Regions from separate parts of the Homo sapiens genome. Here regions 1, 2 and 4 are each linked to region 3. The links come from fine-mapping of genetic effects on gene expression. A gene starts in region 3. Each other region holds a variant in brackets. All regions are shown on one strand. Distances are between the middles of the regions. Region 1 has its middle 330 kb from the start of MMUT. Region 2 has its middle 89 kb from the start of MMUT. Region 3 holds the start of MMUT (methylmalonyl-CoA mutase). Region 4 has its middle 250 kb from the start of MMUT.

Region 1 (5,585 bases), 330 kb after region 3:
ATGATCATGCTGGATGCTCAGACCATAGCACTTTAGATTCATTCTTCCCTCCCTGCTGATGAAGACTGGAGAAGGAGAATGATTTCTCCCACAAATTATAACAGGTTAATAGTGTCTGTTAAAAGAATATTTCAGATGCATGCTAGCATTATTTTGTTTCCATGATATAGATATCATCTATGATTTATGACTAAATCTCAAGTGCATCTTATAGGACCTACATATTTTAAATGAATCTGCTTCAATCAGAAATCTCATATTTATATATGATCATTCATTTAGAATTATGTGATATAGTGAAATGTTCTCTAATTTGCTACCAGTTCTTGAAAGGACATTATCAAGAGGGTGCTGTAGCTCTTAAAAATATAATTTAGTAAAAGATCCTGTATTCTACTAAAATAGAAGATTTCATTTATTTGCCATTAGATTATTAAATTATAAATCTCTTTAAATGAAACTCATTTGATCAATGGCTTTATACACTATACAATACTTGTCATGAACGTGACTATTAGTATCAGTAGGCCTGTTGTGTTTTCTTTAATTTAAACAAAAATTTAAACTTTTTAAATTTTTTTATTCCAAATTTTGTTTTACATTCAAGAGGATACATGTGCATGTTTGTTATATGGGTAAATTGCATGTCCTGGGGATTTAGTGTACAGATTATTTCATCACCCAGGTAATAAGCATAGTACTCAATAGGTAGCTTTGTAATCCTTACCTTCCTCTCACCTTCCACTCTCAAGTAAACCCCAGAGTCTATTATTCCTTCTCTGTGTTCATGTGTACTCAGTATTTAACTCCCACTTATAAATGAGAACCTGCGGTATTTGATTTTCTGTTCCTATGTTAATTTACTTATAATAATGCCCTCCAGCTCTATCCATGTTGCTGTAGAGGACATGAACTCATTCTTTTTATGGCTGCATAGTATTTCATGGTGTATGTGTACCACATTTTCTTTATCCAAGAAAACTCAAATTTTTGGATTTTAGCCAAATCCAGCCCACTGCCTCTTTTTGTAAATAAAGTTTTATTCAAACACAGCCACATTGGTTTGTTTCCTTATAATGTATGACATATTTGGCACTACAGTGGCAGAACTGATATTTGTGACAGAGACTGGATGACCTACAAAACTGAAAATACCACCTGCTTCTTTACAGAAAATGCTTGTCCACTGCTGATCTAGATTATGAAATATCTCCATTTTATACATTAATATATTTACATGGCTTCCATGACATTTTGCAGAGAACCATGTACCACAAATTCACGTATTCCTGGTTTGATTATCATAAGCACTCCTAGACCAGGGTCATTTGCTAAGAGTATTATATCAATAAGAACTATCATGCTAGAAAATATTAGTTTATTACACAAGGTCTGTTTTCAGCATGTTTAAAAGATTGGATTGTGCCACTTGTTTTCTTTCTTTCTTCAAAGTTTTCTTCTGGAAAGAAGAGAGAAATAAATTGCGTGCCAGCTGCTTAATATGCCTAGTGTTCCATTATTGGAACGCAAAGAATGTGGAAGTTATTTATATCCTACTGCTCAAGGTCATCACCAAGGTCTGATTGCAAAAATTCAAAAAATTGCCACCTCAGGCATAAATGGATTAATCTTTCTTTCCCAGGCCTTGATTCTCCTGCGTCAGAGATAGGTCCATAAAAAATACCAATTTTGCATAAATATTTTAACAATGATACATATTTTCAGAGTGCCTCCACATATATACTGTTTTTCATATGCCTAATCTCAAACACCCTCTAATTAAGATAGGTCAGTCATATTTTTAACATATTCTAACATATTAGAAAGCAAGTTCAGGAATATTAAATCATTGTTCAAAGCATGTATCACAAACTATTCTGAAATTTGGATTTTTCACTCTTAGCCTTGTATGATTTCTGTCACACAACAATGAATATATATTTCATTATAATAATTCTGTAAGACACACTTAAAGGTGTAAATACATTGAAGGCACAGGACTTAGAGGAAGTGAATGAAGTGAGGTTGTGTATCTGATAGGTTAAGAGTAAAGATTCTGGAGGTAGGGTACTAGAGATCTACCACTTACAAAATGTTTTACCTCAACAAGTTCTCCAAGCCTCAGTCTCC[C/T]CATATGGCTGTCATTTAGGATAAAATGACAGCCATATATACAGCCATCCATCAATATCCACAGGGGATTGGTTCTAGGACTTCCCATGGATATCAAAACTCACAGATATTCAGGCCCTTATATATACATTGGTGTAGTACTTTCATATAACCTATGCACATCTTTCTATACACCATGAATCATCTCTAGATTATTTACAATACCTAATACAATGTAAATGCTGTGTAAATAATTGTTGTACTGAATTGTTTAGGAAATAATAAAAAAAATCCTGTACATGTTCAGTACAAAGCAACTATCCATTTTTTTCTCCCTAAATATTTTCAATCAATGTTTTGTTGAATTCACAGATGCAAAGTCCATGGATACAGAGACCAGATTGCATACTGCTTTGATAGGGGCCTGAATAGAGAGTGAGCATTAAAGAAACAATAGCTATCATATTGCAGGGTAAAACTCTCAAAATTAGTGAGATAAATTATAGGAGTAAAACACTGACTCACACTAATTTAGAGTAACTGAAATGAAGATGATCTTAATTATAAACTATTTTAATGCAGTTTGAGTTTATTTCAGTGAACAGTCATGCCGTAACATAGTGGGATAAGAATGAACAAGTGAAGTGTAAGGTATGTGAAAAGTTGGATTTTCAGATTTCTAAAGTAGCATTTAATCGAGAACTTGACCCCATCAAAATATGCATTTCATGCAAACACATGGAGATTAATAAAATCTTATTGAGTGTGAAGTTATTCTGGTCTTTTGCCTATTTCTCCCTCTACACACTTTTCCTGGATTTTCAGCTATTCTTATATATTTAATTTTCATTGATGTTTGACTCCCAGCCTAGATCTGTCTATCCCTGGAAATGCAGGGCCATGTATTCCACTGCTGTCTCAATATCTCTATTTGCATATTTCACAGACCCTTCAAACCCGACATCTCCAAACTAATCTTATCACCTCCATCTATTACATTTTTCCAAAGAAAAACCTAGAAAACATCCTCAACTCCTTATTTTCACTTATTCTCCATTTGCACTTCATCACCAGGTTCAGTTGATGTCACCTTATTTTTCACATAATTCCATATCTATTGTTACCAACCTAATCCAGTTCTTTATCATCCCTTACCTACCACAGTCTCCTAATTGGTCTGTATGTGTGACCTCTTGCTTCTCCACTAGCAATTGATATTTCTTTATATTTCTAATACAGTGATCTTTTCAAAATAGATATATACGAATCAAACAGTCAGCAAACTTTTTCTAAAGAGTCAGGTAGTAAATATTTTAGGCTTTGTAGGTCATATGATTTCTGTCATAACTACTCAACTATATTAGTCCATTTTCATGCTGCTGATAAAGACATACCTGACCCTGGGTAATTTATAAAGAAAAAGAGGTTTAATGGACTCACAGTTCCATGTGGCTGGGGAGGCCTCACAGTCATGGTGGAGGGTGAAAGGTATGTCTTACATGGCAGTAGCAAGAGAGAATGATGGCAAAGTGAAAGAGATTTCCCCTTATAAAACCATCAGATCTTGTGAGACTTATTCACTACCACAAGAACAGTATGGAGAAAACCACTGCCATAATTCAATTATGTGCCACCAGGTCCCTCCCACAGCACATGGGAATTATGGGAGCTAAAATTAAGATGAAATTTGGGTGGAGACAGAGCCAAACCATATCATTCCACCTCAGCTGCTCCCAAATCTCATTTCACATTTCAAAACCAATCATGCCTTCCCAACAGTCCCCCACAGTCTTAACTCATTTCAGCATTAACCCAAAAGTCCACAGTCCAGAGTCTCATCTGAGACAAGGCAAGTCCCTTCTGCTTATGAGCCTATAAAATCACAAGCAAGTTAGTTACCTCCTAGATACAATGGGGTACAGGCATTGGGTAAATACGGTTGTTCCAAATAGGAGAAATTGACCAAAACAAAGGGGCTACAGGGCCCATGCAAGTCTAAAATCCAGCTGGGCCGTCAAATCTTAAAGCTCCTAAATGATCTGCTTTGACTCCTGGTCTTGAATCCAGTTCATGCTGATGCAAGAGGTGGGTTTCTGTGATCTTGGGCAGCCCCACCCCTGTGGTTTTGCAGGGTACAGTCTTCCTCCTGTCTGCTTTCACAAGCTGGTGTTGAGTGTCCATGGCTTTCTCAGGTGCATGGTGCAGGCTATTGGTGGATCTACCATTCTGGGGTCTGGAGGATAGTGGCCTTCTTCTCACAACTCCACTGGGCAATGCCCCAGTGGGGACTCTGTGGGGGTGCCCACTCCACATTTCCCTGCTGCACTGCCTTAGCTGAAATTCTCCATGAGGGCCCCTTCCCTGCAGCATACTTCTGCCTGGACATCCAGGCATTTCCATACATCCTTTGAAATCTAGGAGGAGGTTTTCAAACCTCAATTCTTGACTTCTGTGTACTTGCAGGCTCAACACCATGTGGAAGCTGGCAAGGTTTGGAGCTTGTACCCTCTGAAACCATGGCTCCAGTTATAAGCTGGCCCCTTTTAGCCAGAGTGGCTGGGACACAGGGCACCAAGCCCCTATGCTGTACACAGCAGGGGGACCCTGGGCTTGGCCCAGGAAATAATTTTTTCCTTCTATGCCTCTGGACCTGTGATGAGAGGGGCTGTTGTGAAAATCTCTGACATGCCCTGGAGACATTTTCCTCAGTGTCTTGGTGATGAACATTTGGTTCCCTGTTACTTAGGCACATTTCTGCAGCTGGCCAGAATTCCTTCTAAGAAAATCGATTTTTCTTTTCTACTGCATCATCAGGTTGCAAATTTTCTGAACTTTTATGTTCTGTTTTCCTTTTAAAACAGTATGCCTTTAACAGCACCTGAGTTACCTCTGAAATGCTTTGATGCTTAGAAATTTCGTTCACCAGATACCCTAAAACATCTCCCTCCCTTAACTTCAAATTTCCACAGATCTCTAGGGCAGGGCAAAATGTCACCAGTGTCTTTGCTGAAACATAGCAAGAGTCACTTTTACTCCAGTCCCCAAAAAGTTCCTCATCTCCATCTGAGACCACTTCAGCTTGGATTTCGTTGTCTATATCATTATCAGCATTTTGTTCAAAGTGATTCAACAAGTCTCTAGCCAGTTCCAAACTTTCCCACATTTTCTTATCTTATTCTGAGCCCTCTGAACTCTTTCAACCTCTGCCTGTTACCCCGTTACAAAGTTGCTCTCACATTTTCAGGTATCTTTACAGCAGCACCTCACTCTACCAGTATCAGTTTACTGTATTAGTCCATTTTCATGCTGCTGATAAAGACCTATGCAAGACTGGGTGATTTATAAAGAAAAAGAGGTTTAATGGACTCAGTTCCATGTGGCTTGGGACTCCTCACAATCATGGTGGAAGGTAAAAGGCATGTCTTACATGGTGTGGCAAGAGAGAATAAGGGTGAAGTGAAGGGGTTTTCCCTAGT
Region 2 (5,585 bases), 89 kb after region 3:
TAATTTTGCTGGAGAAAAATTGCTTCTATATACAAAACCCAAGGAAGAATATTGCATCTGTAATATCTAAATACATAAGTAACCTCTTTTTGTCCTAGAATCTTAAAAATTGGCCTTTTTTGATTTCCAACTTTTAATTTCAGGGGCACATGTGCAGGATGTGCAGGTTTGTTACATAGGTAAACATGTGCCATTGTGATTAGCTGCACAGATCATCTCATCACCTAGGTATAAAGCCCAGCATCCATTAGCTATTCTTCTTAATGCTCCACCCTTCCACAGGCCCCAGTGCGTGTTGCTCCCCTCAATGTATCCATGTGTTCTCATTATTCATCTCCCACTTATAAGTGAGAAGATGTGGTATTTGGTTTTCTGTTCCTGAGTTAGTTTGCTGAGGAAAATGGGTTCCAGCTCCATCCATGTCCCTGCAAAGGGCATGATCTTGTTCCTTTTTATGGCTGCATAGTATTCCATAGTGTATATGTACTACATTTAATTTATCCAGTCTAACATTGACAGGCTGGATAAAGCCACAATTTGCAATTTTTTGATAAGAGTTTTCTCCTCAATTCCTTCCTAATTTTACAAATTTATAAAAATGAGTTCTAGCATAGATTTTTAAAATTCACAATCTGTTTGAAATTACCAAATACATTTATCAACTTTCAATCAAGGTGAACAGATTATTCTAATGAATTTTTTTTCTCTAAGTCTCTGCACATTTTTCTCTCTGAGGAAGAACAATTATGTCAGGCTTCTGACAAGCTTATGACTGACAATTGATTAATATTATTTTTAGTGTGTTTCCAATGCTGGTCTATGATGTGTTCTGTCATAGAAACTTTACTTTTCTATATCTTCAGATCTTTTTTCCACAATCAAGAATAGATACTTTGGGATTTTATTTATTGCACACCTAGTAAACTGGCTAATCTGGTATCTTCATAGGTTACGCATATCTAATTTAAGGGATAGTACTTGTTTCTTTCATGCAATGAAGACTGCAAGAATATTATATATTTTTAAAATTCTTGTATGTTTTTAATTGATGAAAAATGTCTAATTAATTATGTATAGATTGCAAACTGAATTACTGTAAACTCCTTAAGGGTGTCAACTGTATAACCTTAGCAGTCAAGCAGAATGCTGGGCACATTTAAATGGCTCAACAAAAGTGTCAACAGATGATAAAGGAAGGATGATTTTCTGAAAAAAATATTACCAGTATTGCAACCTTGTGCCATATCATGCATCACTGGGCATTAAGAGACAAATGAGAAAGCTGGGATTGAAATATTAAAGAGATATTAAGAATTGACATCATTGTCCAAGCAAGAGAGTATATTCAAGTGGAAGTAGGATATTAGGCAAGAATTATATTTAGTAATCGCAAATATAATTCAAGATAGCAAGGGCTACAGCCAACAAGCAAGGCAGTCAGATTGACATTTCTTTAGCCATTTTTCTTAATTTCCAGACAAATATAAATCCATCCTTTTTGATCATGGTTGGAACTCACTGTTTTTTTAAATTGCATGAAGTTGTGGTATCCTACAATTTTATAACAGTCTTTGTTTCTAATACACCACTTTCAAGCTTTCAATGATTTGCAAATGAAGAGACTACATATATTTCTTTTGACAGTGTCTGAAGTGTTGGTATAATGCTTAACAGGAGTCCCTCATCAAGTGACTATTTTACATAATTGAATTATCTAACTAGAATCAGAGGTGAAAAGCTATGACACAGTGAAATGTGAAATTATTTTGCAGATCATAAACAGCTTTGCAAGTATGCAATACCATCATTATGAGTTCAGCAATCTGTCAAAGAAAATATTAATACTGGCAAAGAATTTACCTACAGGGTAACAGAAAATGAATACTTCTTATTGATCATGTTTCTAGCAAATTATTAAAACAGCATAATTCAGAGCATCAGGCACAAACTAATTTTGTGAATAAAGGCCCTTAGGCCACATCCTCTCTATTAAGGAAAGCTGGCCAACATTCCAGATGTACGGTTAGTTTTTAATGGGAGGGTGGTGTGAGTAAGTGGGGGATCCTGTCTCAAAGAAGTCAAGTGACATTACCCGACACTCATGCATTGACCTTCCATGAGTGGCATGGTATTGTATTTATTATAAAATGGCAGCAGGTTTTCTGAGATTAAGTAGAAAAATTGGTAAGTATTTAACTACTATCTAGTGACACAACTCTTTAAAAACATCAAATAGAGAACTGAGGCCAGAAAAATAGCAATAAAAAGTCAGTTTGAAAATTTTAAAAAAATCTTCAAATAAACAGCATGAAAAGAAGGAAACTGGGAAAATAAAATCTGAGATATACTGAGTAAAATACCTTTGGATTGAGTAGAGCTATTAGCGGGAAAAAAATAAGGCAAGAATTTGAATGAAGCTCATAAGAACTGAAATGCTTGGTTTTAAAAGTTGAAAAAAGAGGCCTTTTAAAATATTCTTAGGTAGCTGATTATGAATTAAAGAGGAAACATCACATTGAATCTAAGACTTTCTCTTTATAAAGGGAATGAAAGCTTAGCAGATTAATATTAATGAACAAACTGAATGAATGAATAAATGAATGAATGCCTACTCTCTATACACAGGTGTAATTTTAATTAGCTGTAAGAGTTAACTTGTCAAGGCCTGTGAGATTGTAAACTAGTTGAAATTGTTAGGCTTCCTCTCCATCCTTTTTTTCAAGGCCTATTTTTCCCTTATCCATTGTATGTGACTTTTAAAAAAAAACAGACTTATCCTGAACTTTCAAAAATGCAACTAAATAATAAACTCACTCATGATTTCTTCATTCAATAAATATATTTTGAGTATCTATCATGACCTGACACTGTTTCAGGTGTCTGTAATTTAACAGTGAGAAAAACAGATAGGATATCTGACCTCATGGAGCTCATAGCTTAGTCTAGGAATTGTATATAAAATAAATAATTTCCTAAATGAATATATAAGTATATAATTATAAACCATCATGTGTACTGTATTAGTCAGAGTTCTCCAGAAGGACAGAATTAATGGAATAAAAGAGTTTCTTAGGTATTTAATGAGTTTATTAAGTATTAACTCACACGATCACAAGTTCCCACAATAGGCCTGCTGCAGGCTGAGGAGCAAGGAGAGCCAGTCCAAGTTCCAAAACTGAAGAACTTGGAGTCTGATGTTCAAGGGTAGGAAGCATCCAGCATGGGAAAAAGATGTAGGCTGGGAGGCTTTCACATTTTCTGCCTGCTTTATAATCGCTGGCAGTTGATTAGATGGTGCCCATCCAGATTAAGTGTAGGTCTGCCTTCCCCAGCCCACTGACTCAAATGTTAA[T/A]CTCCTTTGGCAGCACCCTCACAGACACACCCAGGATTAATAGTTTGCATCCTTCAGTCTCATCAATTTGACACTCAGTATTAACCATCACATGTGCTATGGAACAATATGATTTCTGTGAGAACATATGACTGGGTTGGTTAGGGAAGACTTTCATAAGAATATAGTATCTGAGAGAGAGCTGAAGAATTAGCAGATAATAACTATTTGGGGAAACAGGCATTCATAATAATTTATGGAGAGTGTTTTAGGCCAAGGGCACAAAGAGTAGGGCCTAAGAAGCATGTTAAAATACTTGCTTATTAATGAATTATATTGTATTTTCTCAAGGATTGTTTTTATTTTAATGGAGAACTTTTCCCCTTCTTTGACTGTATTATAAGTGATCTAACAAATTTTTCTCATTATAATTCAAGCAGCTTAGAATTATACATGTTAAAAATATATAATAAAATGCATAATTATATACATTATTTTATAATTGTGAGTGGAAAATCGTTATCTCAATTTCCTAAAAATACTTATTATTGCATTGTTATGCATTAAGACATAAATTTCATACATGTGCACACACACTTTATTTTCTCTAAAATGGTTTCATACTATATGCAGCAATTTGCAACTTGCTTTTTTACTTAACAGTATGACTTGAACACTTTCCCTGCCAGTATGTATAGTCATTATTCATCTATTTTATGTACACATGTCATTCATATACATATGATATGTGAATATATAAATTCATAAATGTTAATACGTATGATACATGAATTCATATATAGTATATATGTGATGTGTGAGATATTGTTACATATATACTGACTATATCATGATTTCTATAACCACTGTTGTATAAATGCACATCTAGATTGTTTACAAGGTTTTTTTATTTTGGGTGATGCAGCCAAACATATTCTTGCACACAAAAGTTTTTGGATCTGTATGAGTAATTTTTTAGAAAAAAGTTTCTGGAATTAGAATTACAGCTTCAAAGTACAAATTTTAAAAATTTGACAGCTATTATAACCAAATTCTATTCCTTTACAAGAAGACTTTTTATTAGCTAAAATGTACAAGGATAGCTTGTACATTTTCTGCACACTTGACAAACTAAATATAATTATCTTTAAACTTTTAACAGAGGGCTCTGAAATCGGAAGCATCTTCTGTACAAAATTGACTGCTTTTATAATTCAGTAGGTAGTATCATTGTTTGGATCAGGATATACAAAAAATAAAAAGTGGTAGGTATTGTGCCAAAGTAGAGAGGGCTTGCCTAGTATGGAGACATTCAAATTCGAATCCAAATACCACCACAGCCAAATGCAATATAGACCTGGGCTGGAGTCCATCAGCTGGAACTCACAGAAGTAAAGAGTCTCAAGAAGAAGATAACTGGTCCCAATTGTTCATTGTCCTTAAATCATTACAATTGGCTGTCCATCCAACATCTCATATACAGAAGGTGGGCTTTGTCTCTGAATCAGGCTGCTACACCCACAAATATGAAAATTCCTTGTTAAGAATTGCGAGGTTGGAATTTCACTTGCTGACATCTTAGAATGTGGTAAATTTTTTCTTACTCCTAGAGCAGTCAATCAACATAATAGAGGAAAAATAATACATATTTAAAGGGATCTATTATGCTTCAATTAAATTGCATGTTCAATAATGAAACAAATGGCCAGGTGCGGTAGCTCACACCTGTAATCCCAGCACTTTGGGAGGCCAAGGAGGGCGGATCACTAGGTCAGGAGTTAGAGACCAGCCTGGCCAACATGGTGAAACCCTGTCTCTACTAAAAGAATACAAAAATTAGCTGGGCAGGGTGGTGTGCCCCTGTAATCCTAGCTACTTGGGAGCCTGAGGCAGGAGAATTGCTTGAACCCAGGAGGCCGAGGTTGCAGTGAGCAGAGATTGCACCACTGCACTCTGGCCTGGGCGACAGAGCAAGACTCGGTCTCAAAAATAAAATGAAATAAAAGAAACAAACACTTTAATAATACTTACTCTGTATAATGCTTTGTACAGATCCAGCATATTAACTAAGAAAATGGATTAATTACCTTTCCAGTAAAATTCCATGAAACTGATGAGTTTTTAAAAATTCTATTCCTTTTTGTTTTGTAGAAACATAATATAATGTTTCAAATGACGGTGTTCTGTCTTATGAATTGATTGAATTCAATTCATTCAAAACATTGAAAAGTAGGACTGTTTTGTAGATTATTTG
Region 3 (5,585 bases):
GGCAAGTGAGCGAATGACTGTCTTAAACTGGTTTGTGCTATGGGTAAGAATGTACAGGCATAACTCTTTTTATTGTGTTTCACTTTATTGAGCCTCGCAGACACTGTATTTTGTTGTTGTTGTCTTACAAACTAAAGGTTTGTGGCAAGCCTGCACTGAACAACTATATTGATGCCATTTTTCCAACAGATTGTGCTCACTCTTCACATTTCTGTGTCATATTTTGATAACTCTCACAATATTTCAAACCTTTTCATTATTATATCTGTTATGGTGATTGATGTTACTCTGTAATTGTTTTAGGGCACCATGAACCATGCCAATATCAGACAGAGAACTTAATAGGTAAATGTTGCGTTGTGTTTTGACTGCTCCACCAACTGGCTGTTCCCTGCCTCTCTCCCTCTCCTTAGGCCTCCCTATTCCCTGAGACACAATGATATTGAAATTAGGCCATTTAATAACCCTACAATGGCCTCTAAGTGTTCAAGTGAAAGCAAAAATCACACCTCTCTCACTTTAAATTAAAAGCTAGAAATGTTTAAGCAAGGTGAGGTAGGCATGTCAAAAGCCAAGATAGGCTGGAAACTACACCAGTTAGCCAAGCTGTGAATGCAAAGGAAAAGTTCTTGAAGGAAATTTAAAGTGCTATTCCAGTGAAGACATGAATGATAAGAAAGCAAAAACAGCCTTATTACTGATAGGGAGAAAGTTTGAGTGGTCCGGGATTGAAGATCAAACTAGCCACAACACGCCCTTAAACCAAAGACGAATTCATGGCAAGGTCTTAACTCACTTCAATTCTATGAAAGCTGAGAGAGGTGAGAAAGCTGTAGCAAAAGAGCCTGAAGCTAGCAGAGCTTGGTTCCTGAGGTTTAAGGAAGTAAGCTATCTGCATAACATGAAAGTACAAAGTGAAGCAGCAAGTGCTGATGCAGAAGCTGCAGCAAGTTATCCAGTTCTAGGTAAGATAATTGATGAAGGGGCTACACTAAACAACAGATTTTCAATGAAGACAAAACAGCCTTCTATTGGAAGATGCTATCTAGGACTTTCATATCTAGAAAGAAGTCATTGCCTGGCTTCAAAGCTTCAAAAGACAGGCTGACTCTCTTGTAGGGGCTAATATGGGTGGTGACTTGAAGCCAATGCTCATTGACCATTCTGAAATATCCTAGGGCTCTTATTCTTTTAAATCTACTCTGTCTGTGCTCTGGAAATGGAAGAACAAAGCATGAGTGACAGCACATCTGTTTACAGCACGGTTTACTGAGTATTTTAAGCCCATCTTTGAGACCTACAGCTCACAAAAAGATTCCTTTCAAAATAATACTGCTCAATGACCACGTACTTGGTCACCCAAGAGCTCTGATAGAGATGTACAAGGAGATTAATGCTGTTTTCATGTCTGCTAACACAACATCCATTCTGCAGCCCATGAATCAAAGAATAATTTTGACTTTCAAGTTATATTATTTAAGAAATACATTTTGTAAAGCTATAGCTGCCCTAGACAGTGATTCCTCTGATGGATCTGGGCAAAATAAATTGAAAACTTCTGGAAATGATTCACCATCCCAAATGCTAGTAAGAACATTCATGATTCACGGGAGGAGGTCAAAATATCAACATTAACAGGAGTCTGGAAAAAGTTGATTCCAACCCTCATGGATGACTTTGTAAAGGTCATGACTTTGTTCAAGACTTCAGTGGAGGAAGTGATGAAAGATCTGGTGGCAATAGCAAGAGAAATAGTGGAGCCTGAAGATGTACCTGAATTGCTGCAATCTCATGATAAAACTAGTGGAAAAGAAGTTGCTTCTTATGAATGAGCGAAGTTCTTGAGATGGAATCTACCCCTGGTGAAGATGCTGTGAATATTCTTGAAATATCAACAAAGAATTCAGAATATCACAAAACCTTAGTTGCTAAAGCAATGGTAGGGGTTAAGAGGATTTACTCTAATTTTGAAAGAAGTTCTACAGTGGGTAAAATGCTTTCAAACAGCATCACATGCTACAGAGAAATCTTTAGTGAATGGAAGAGTCAACTGCTGTACAAAATTCATTATTTTGTTATTTTAAGAAACTGCCACAGCAACTCCAATCTTCAGCAACCATCACCCTGATTGGTCAACAGCCATCAACATCAAGCAAGACCCTCCACCAGCAAAAAGATTAGGACTTGCTGAAGGCTGAGATGATTAGTAGCATTTTTTAGCAATAAAATATTTTAAAATTACAGCATGTAATTTTTTTTTACACATAATGCTATTGCACACTTAATAGGTTACAATACAGTGTAAATACAACTGTTATATGCACTGGGAAACCAAAAAAATCGTGTGACAGGCTTTATTGGTCTGGAACCGACCCCGCAATATCTCGGAAGTATGTTTGTACATTATTCATAGAAAAAGTATTATTCTAATAACATTTTGAAATATTTAGCCAAAAAGTAGAAAAATGAAGCATCCAAGGGAAAACAGTAAAACTCGGACGGCAGGAAAGCTCGGAAAAAACACAAAAAACCTGGCGTGTTCAGGGACAGGATAATCCAGCGAGGCTTTTAATGTGTATAGGAGAAGTGAAAAGAAATAAGGCTGGTACAGTAGTTTGCCGCCAGACTATATGCTTTAGGAGAGAGGGAGGCATTCTAGGTTGTCTTGTTTTTCTTACCAGCTTGTTGATACTCATGGGACTCAATTACCTCAATTTAGACCTCTATGTGGGCACAAGAGTGAGTAGGACTCCTGGAGAAACACAGACACTAATGTCCAAGGCTGCACTTGACTTCACTAGTGCCCGCGGGAGAAATTTAGCAATGAGGATGAGCCATGAGGATGATTCGGGAGAAATAGGAAGTATTCATGGCTTTGCTCCCTCCCCCCTAATCAAACATCTCAATCTCAGGATCCTAAGGGCAGATCTTTTAGGACATCGGGCATTTCCCCGTAAGCAATCCCCCCTCGCTATCCTCAAATGCAAACTGCGGAGTCTGCCACAAACGCGTTGGCTTTAAAACTCATCCCTGAACTTTAGATCCACCCAGCCGGTTAAGGATATCACGACTCACCACTGATTCTTCTTGCACCCTTCTGAGAGCCGCGCTTAGAGTAATTCGCGCCCAAACATTCGTAAACAGAGGAGACCCGGAAGTGGGTGGGAAGAAAGCGGAAACGGGCATCTAACCCTACCCCTAAACGTCATCAGGAATGCGCCCATGAGAGCGCTATTAGATTGGCTGGAGGGAGGGCGGTGTCGGCCTACGCCCCCAGAGTCGTCCGGCTGACGCTGGCGGTGGCGCGGTTTGTGTGGGCTTGGTGAGGGCGGGGAGGCCTGGCTGTGTGGATGTCTGACAGGTGAGGCGGGGGACGCAGAAGTGCAGCCGCCCTCTCCCACAGCGGAGTCCAAAACAGGCCTACCAGTGAGTAGGACGTACACCTTTCAGATCGCTCCATTCTTCTGGCTCCTGTCCCTCCTCTACCCCTGTATTTTGAACTTTTGTCCTTTCTCTCCCGCTCTGTCCTTTACTTCTGTCTTCTTTACCTTCCTACTGTGACGGGATCCCACTCTCTGCCTTCTCCTTAGGTTTAGATTTTCACTTCGACCAACCTCTAGTTTTGGGCGAAGTCCCTGGCAATTCGGAGGTACTTCTGGAAAGAAGGTGCTTTTAATACTTTAGGGGCCATGTCGGTATCTTCTTTGGCCACTTAAGCACCCTGAACTGTTCCCGTTGGCAGAGGTCACTTTTTGTATGGTTCCAAAGGGATGCGCCTGCTTCATGGCTGCCTCCCTTCTAGGTTGTGGGTTATGTTATTGTCAGGGTTTTTCTAAGAGTTTTCGGGAATAAAAGTGATTTTCTGTGTGTAAACAGGATTAAGAGTGTAAACAGTGTTAAGAGTGAGAGGTAGAATAGAAAAGACAGGTCTAAATTGACATAAAAGCTTACATTACTAACTCGTTCTCAGTTTTATCTAGAAAGAAGGTGGTCTTAGGGAAGCTCGAAGCCCTGGATAACGTATGTGTGTAAAGTTTTAAACCACTTGATGATTTTCTGCCAATATAATTTTGTGTTTAATGATGTACTTATGCTAATATCAAATATAATTTTCATGCCCTATGTTTCCATCTCCAAACCCAACTAGTTGAACATCAAAGTACCTTCTTGAAGTATTAATGTGCAATCATACGTCAGCAGCCAAAGCTTGAAACTTATTGGTTCAAGAAATCTTTTTCTCACTGATTTGTTTTTGAGGTGTGGGGGTGGGATTAATCATTGCTCTTTAACTCATTTTAGTTGTCAGTAACATATTTGCTTTGCATGTTGCTTCTTTGAATGCTTGAGGCCTCTCTTGATGGTCTTCTGAGAAAATTCAGAGGTCGTATTGCCATCCGCAGTAGTTGTGTTTTTATCTAAAAATGGTGTCTGTTTCCAGCCTCCACCAATTCACATGTGATTTTCAGGAAGTCACTTAAACGGGGCTCTTTCCTATTAGTTGTTCAGATTTAGGAAAGCCCACGTGAAATGAGTGTGATATTTCCTGCCAACAGTTTAGTCTCAGGTGGTTTTCAAATTACCTTTTACAGGATTACTATTGAAACAGTTTAGTTGTTGCTTCATTATTTTTTTCATCCACCTTTTAAGCTAGTAAATGTAGTGGATGGCTTGCAAAAAGATGGATGACAAGGACCCCATGGATTTAAAGAATAAAAATCGTGCTAGTATTAAAAAAATGGAAGGTTTTTTTGTTTTGTTTTGAGACGGGGTCTCTCTCTGTTGCCCAGGTTGGAGTGCAGTGGCACGATCTCTGCTCACTGCAACCTCTGCTTCCCGGGTTGAAGTGATTCTCATGCCTCAGCCTCCTGAGTACCTGGGATTACTGGTGTGCGCCACCATGCCCAGCTAATTTTTGTATTTTTAGTAGAGACTGGGTTTCACCGTGTTGGCCAGGCTGGTCTTGAACCCCTGACCTCAGGTGATCCACCTGCCTCGGCCTCCTGAAGTGCTGGGATTCCAGGCGTGAACCACCATGCCCAGCCTTTTTTGTTATGTTTCCATTTAGACTTTGTTCTATGTACTTTTTACATAGTTGAACCTGTTGCACTTACAATTACGTGTCTTGAGTCTTTTACTTACTACTTTTTGAGTTTGTTTCTCTTTTTTTGGGAAACTATGCATAACACATTTTTAACTTTTTACTTATACATATATTTACAGAAACTGCATAAAACATAACTGTATAATTTGATGAATTTCCACAAACAGAATATATCTATGTAAGTGGCAATCAGATCAAGACCATTACCCCCAAAAGCCCCTCTCTTGCTCCTGTTGTATTCTAGCAACCATTAAGTAACCATTCTTCTGACTTCTGACATCAAAGATTAGTTTTGCCAGCTTTCTAAACATATTTTGATAACTACATGAAATTCTATCATTTGTATATGCTGTAATTCACTTATTCATATGTTATGAGATACTTACGATTTTCCTAAGTTTTCTCTATTACAAATAAAACTATAGGAAACATCTATTTTATATATTACTACAGAAGCTTTCCCAGGAGTAATGTTCCTCAGTGG
Region 4 (5,585 bases), 250 kb after region 3:
TTTTTTGGTTCCATGAGAATTTTAGAATTTTTTTTTCTAATTCTGTGAAAAATAACATAAATAATTTGATGGGAATAGTGATGAATCTGTAAATTGCTTTGGGCAGTGTAGCCATTTTAACAATATTGATTCTTCCAATCCATGAGTATGGAATGTTTTTCCATTTTTTTTTATTGTCTATAATTTCTTTCATCAGTGTTTTGTAGTTCTTTTTGTAGAGATCTTTCACCTCCTTGATTAGACATATTCCTAGGTATTTTATTTATTTAGTTTCTTTTGTGGCTCTTGTTAATGAGGTTGTGTTCTTGATTTGCTTTCAGTGTTAATGTTATTGGTGTATAGAAATGCTATTTCTTTGTGTATGTTGATTTTGCATACTGAGACATTGCTGAAGTCATTTATCCAGGTCTAGGAGGCTTCTGGCAGAATCTTCAGGATTTTCTAGGCATATAATAATATCAGAGAAGAGAGATCATTTGACTTCTTCTTTTCCTCTTTGCATGCCTTTTGTTTCTTTCTCTTGCCTGATTGCTCTGGCTAGGACTTCCAGCACTACATTGTATGTGAGTGGTGAGAGTGGACATTCTTGTATTGTTCCAGTTCTTAAAAGGAATGTTCCCAACTTTTGCTTGTTCTGTATAATGTTTTCCATAGCTTTGTCATAAATGGCTCTTATTACTTTGGGTTATGTTCCTTTGATGCCCAGTTTGTTGAGGATTTTTATCACGAAGGAATTTTGAGTTTTACTGAATGCTTTTTCCTCATGTATTGAGATAATCATATGAGTTTTGTTTTTAATTATATTTATGTGGTGAGTCACATTTATTGATTTGCATATGTTGAACAATCTTTGCATCCCTGGAATAAAGCCCATTTGATTTTGATGAATTATATTTTTTTGCACTGCTGGATTTTCTATTTTTTTTAATGTCTAATAAAATTTGGCTATGATCATCTGGTCAATGGCTTTTCTGGTTGGTAGGTTTTTTTAATTACTAATTCCATTTCATTACTTGTTATTAGTCTGTTCAGGCTTTCTATATCTTCCTGGTTCAATCTTGGGAGGTTGTGTGTTTCTAGGAGTTGTCCGTTTCCCCTAGAGCTTCTAGTTTGTGTGCATGGATATGTTCATAGTAGTCTCTGAGGATCTTTTGTATTTCTGTGTGATGGGATGTGATGTCATCTTTATCATTTATGGTTATGCTTATTTGGATCTTCTTTTTTTCTCTTTGTCAATCTATTTAGTGGTCTGTCAATTTTGTTTATCATTTCAAAGAGCCACCTTCTCATTTCATTTATGTATGTTTTGGTATGTTTTTTAATCTCAAATTCATTTTATTTTGCTCTGATTTTAGTTATTTTTTTCTTCTTCTTGCTTTCAGATTGGGTTGTTTTTGTTTTTTCCACTTTCTTTTCTATTTTCGTTCTATTAACTTCAGGTTAGGTTGTTAATTTGAGATTTTTCTATCTTGTTGATATAAGTGTTTTGTGCTATAAACTTTCCACGTAACACTGCTTTTTCCGTATCCTAGAGGTTTTGGTGTGTTATGTCTCCGCTTTCTTTTGTTTCAAATTTTTTTTTTTTTGCCTTAATTTCATTCCTTACCCAAAAGCCACTCAAGGGCAAGTTGCTTAGTTTCCATGTATTTTTGTGGTTTTGAGAATTCCTTTTAGTATTGATTTCTATTTTTATTTCACTGTGATCCAAGAAGATGCTTCGTATGATTTTGATTTTTTTGAATTTATCAAGGCTTTATGACCAATCATGTGGCCAATCTTGGAGTACATTCCACGTGCAGATAAGAATAATGTATATTTTGTGGTTGTTGGGTGGAGTATTCTCTACATGTCTATTAGGTCCAATCAAATGTCAAATTTAAGTCCAGAATTTCTGTTAGTTTTCTGCCTTGATGATCTCTCTAATGCTGTCAGTGGGATGTTGAAATCCACCACTACTATTGTGTGGATATCTAAGTCTTTTCTCAGGTCTACAAGCAATTACTATTATTTTTTAAAATCCAAGTGCTTTAATTTTGGGTGTGTGTAAATTTAGGATATTTCAACCTTGTTGAATTGAATCATTTATTATTATGTAATGTCCTTCTTTGTTCTTTTTCACTTTTGTTGGTTTAAAGTCTGTTTTATCTGATACAAGAATAGCAGCCCTTGCTCTTTTTGGCTTTCCATTTGAGTGACAGTCTTTCTCCATCCCTTTACTTTGAGCCTATGAGTGTCATTACATGTGAGATGGGTCACAAAAACAACAGAAGGAAAGGTCCTATATTTGCATCTAATTTGTCGTTCTGTCTTTTAAGTGGAGCATTTAGGCCATTTACATTCAACGATAATATTGATATGTGAGGCTTTGTCCCTGTTGCAGGTTTGCTAGCTACTTACTTTGTAGCTTTGATTGTGGAATTGTTTAATAGAGTTCATGAGGCCTGTGCCTACACGTGCTTTCTGTAGTCTCTGGCTTGAAATTAAAATGCCTGCTTAGCTGCCACTGTCAGATCGCCAAACAATGACTGATGTTGTATGAGGCCAGATTAAAAAGGGAATCCTCCTCTTGTTCCTGAGTCTAGGAAAATGCCTGCAGCTTTCCCCAGGGTCTTTCCATCTTTTCACCTCTCCCCAAGTTAGCTCCAGGGCTTGAGAGAAATAGGGTGCTCTCCCTTTGCTTGGGTTGCACAGATTCTTAGTGGATAGGTGATTCACAGAGAGAGACTGACTGCCCCTCTCACATACTGGTGTTTCACTTACTTCTGTTACCCAAATGTTGTCATAGGGACTGTTTGCCCACCTTCTCCTCTCTAGGTCTGGTTGTCCTTTGCTATTCTGGTGAATAATTCCAGTCTTCTTTCTTGAAGTAAAACTCTCAGAGTTAATTTTTCTGCACATTTTTCTGTTTATAAGTGGCTGATGCATGCTAAAAGCTGCTATCCACCATGTTAGTGAAAAAGAAGCTTAGTGATTTTAATAAATAAATGTCATCTTAAAAAGATCTAAAAGTTAAGAACAGGGCAGGCAGTAAGTTAACATATCTGCTATAC[C/A]CTAAAATAATTTTTTAATTAAGCACAGAATGTATTATCTTGTACTTTCAACATGGAACTTACTTCTCTGAGGAAAGACACAATGATGATTCTCATGAAAAACAGTAATTATTTTATAGGGCAGGCATGGGGCTAATCACTGCTTGTTGTACTAGAATGTCAGCCCAGACCTTGCTACTCGTAGGCTTGCTTCTTCACATCCTAAACTTTTTGAACTATTTCTTCACAGAAGGGAGACAGAGAAAATAAAAAGGCACTGTGATCTTCCTGGGAGATGAAGCCATGTTTTATTTCACTTTCTAGCCTTAAGTATCTAAAAGGTTGTAGTAAGTGTTCAAGAATAGAAAGTAGAAAGAAAGGAAATAAGATCCAGTATAGGAAAAGCTATAAGGAATTGTGAAGAAGCATAAATAGAGAAGGAGAAAATGAGCCAGAAATGGAATATTATGTAGGAAGAAATATGTTTCTTATATATTTTTCTTGGTATAAAGTATGAACTTGTAAAAGGGTGAAAAGAGAAGAACAGAAAGGAAAGGAAAGGAAAGGAAGAGAACTGCAATAGAGAGTGATGAGTGAGGAACACAACAGGATACGTGGGTCATGTCTAAGGATCAGGTTTGGGTGAACCTGACAATCAAATATACTGGGCTTATGTATGACCAATAGTCATTTCTAAAGGTAGCACATGCCACTTGCAGCTCATATGGGAATTGATATCTACTTATTCTATTTAAAAAGAATAATCTAAATTATTCTTTAGATTAATTGCCAAACTATGGGTACTGCACTAATTCATTTTCAGGGCACTCCTTAATTAGAAAAGGAATGGAAAATATCACAAGAGACATGAAATTATGCAGTTGAGAGCACAGAAGGGAGATGGTAAATCTGTTGCCATTTAAATTGCCCAAGTCTATTTCTTCTTTCTCAGATGAAACGCAAGGCCCAAAGATCTTTCATCACTGTCTCCAAGACAGGGAGAAAAGGTTTCAGGGCAATTGCACAAATGAGCATGGGTAACACTGCCTGAGAGGTTGTTAGAAGGCTAACGTAAGTTTAACACTCTCTTACCCAGAATGTTTGAATCTTCTCCATAAGCAGCGATACAGACTTTGCTTGAACACCTTTACCTCTGTCAAATTCATTAGCAAATGTATGAAAATTTGCTAACATTCGAGACTGCCTTTTCCATTTTTGGACAATTCTGTTAAAAATTTCTTCGTCTTCCTTTCTTCTTCCTTGATTGAGCTGCCATCTGTTTCCCTATAACTTAAACTCATTTCTTTTAATTTGACCATCTGTGTTCACACTGAACAAATTTGTCTATTTGTTATGTCCACTCTTCCTATGTCTTCTCTTCTTCCAGTTTTTGTCAAATGTTTTTCACATATGGTTCCCACAATATTCAGGTTACATCTTATTTAACACCTTATGCTATACTCTTAAATTTATGTTTTTTCTATACATATATCAGTAGAGAGGAGTTAAATACTCAGTCATCAAACTTGAAATCCTATTGTAAGATATTTTCTCTGAAATAAATTAGTATGTTGTACTTTTCTACTATATTTGCAAACAAAATAACAAATGCAGCATTCTTTTGCTCTTTATTAAAAATATAAATATTTTTAATGATGCAATTTCATTGAGCCTCCTAATGTTTAAAATTTCTGTATCTCAGTTTTTAAAAATATAGAGAATATCATGTCTTGCTGAAAATAATCAAAGACACATAAGAGTAGTATATGAAATTAAAAATTAAATCTATCATGCCTTTAACTACTTACATACTACAAAATGAAAAGACATTACTAAGAAAATTTTAGGCATGATCAAACTATAGGTATGCCCCCTGAATTAGCAAAATTCATATACCCCTCTTATACTACTAAACATGGACCTATTTTATAAATTACCTCCCTCAGTTACAAAGAAAGGAAATTAATAATAACAGACAAAATTGTTTATTCAATCAAGGATAGAGGAAGAATAACCCCGCAAAATGGGAAACAATTTCTGTTTTGTTAATTTTGGATAAAAGGTGTTTTTGGCACTGGTAGGCACTTTTATAAATCCCTGCCTCTTCAAATATCTGTGTCAAAAGCAAAAATTGCAGTGGACAAAGTTACACAAGTAAGGAAGACTTTCTTCAAGGCTATTGCAATAGAATAGAAACACCAGAGCTCAGTCTGAGCTCAACTCCACAGAAAGACATGGTAGAAGAGGAGTGTGTGTGTGTGTGTGTGTGTGTGTGTGTGTGCGTGTGTCTGGGACTGAAAAGGATCACTGGCTATCTGTGTTTGCTAACTGACCTTACCCAAAGGAAAAGTAAACTTTTTTTCTCATCTTCATGACAGAAGGTTCTTGTAAAACCATGAGCAAGGAGCTAATCTAAGTCAGGTTTCTATTCTCCCACACTAACTGGTAGAAAGTGGGGCTCTCTCTCTTGATGATTACATTTCAAAGGAACGGCTCTCAAGGACCTATGAAAGACTTTGTTACAAAACTGGTCAGAGACTTTTAAGAAGATTTATA

Evidence for each region. PIP is the estimated chance that this variant, and not a neighbour inherited with it, causes the effect.
Region 1: its variant is fine-mapped to the expression of MMUT in blood mononuclear cells (TOPMed, PIP above 0.99). The same link has a PIP of 0.9 or more in whole blood.
Region 2: its variant is fine-mapped to the expression of MMUT in whole blood (TOPMed, PIP above 0.99). The same link has a PIP of 0.9 or more in lung.
Region 4: its variant is fine-mapped to the expression of MMUT in whole blood (INTERVAL, PIP above 0.99). The same link has a PIP of 0.9 or more in breast, skeletal muscle, subcutaneous fat and transverse colon.

Annotation. Positions count from the first base shown.
Region 1 is chr6:49,129,017-49,134,601 of GRCh38, reverse strand. No RefSeq gene overlaps it. Among named protein-coding and RNA genes, the nearest start is that of MMUT, 330 kb to the left of the region's middle. The variant C/T (reference allele first, on the strand shown) is at 2,131.
Region 2 is chr6:49,371,750-49,377,334 of GRCh38, reverse strand. No RefSeq gene overlaps it. Among named protein-coding and RNA genes, the nearest start is that of MMUT, 89 kb to the left of the region's middle. The variant T/A (reference allele first, on the strand shown) is at 3,353.
Region 3 is chr6:49,460,944-49,466,528 of GRCh38, reverse strand. MMUT (methylmalonyl-CoA mutase) reads left to right here and starts at 3,276. Exons shown (of 13, transcript NM_000255.4): 1 at 3,276-3,426. It overlaps CENPQ (centromere protein Q), which reads right to left and starts at 3,159. Exons shown (of 9, transcript NM_018132.4): 1 at 3,076-3,159. RefSeq lists enhancers at 2,293-3,192, 3,537-3,606, 3,193-4,093.
Region 4 is chr6:49,209,064-49,214,648 of GRCh38, reverse strand. No RefSeq gene overlaps it. Among named protein-coding and RNA genes, the nearest start is that of MMUT, 250 kb to the left of the region's middle. The variant C/A (reference allele first, on the strand shown) is at 3,051.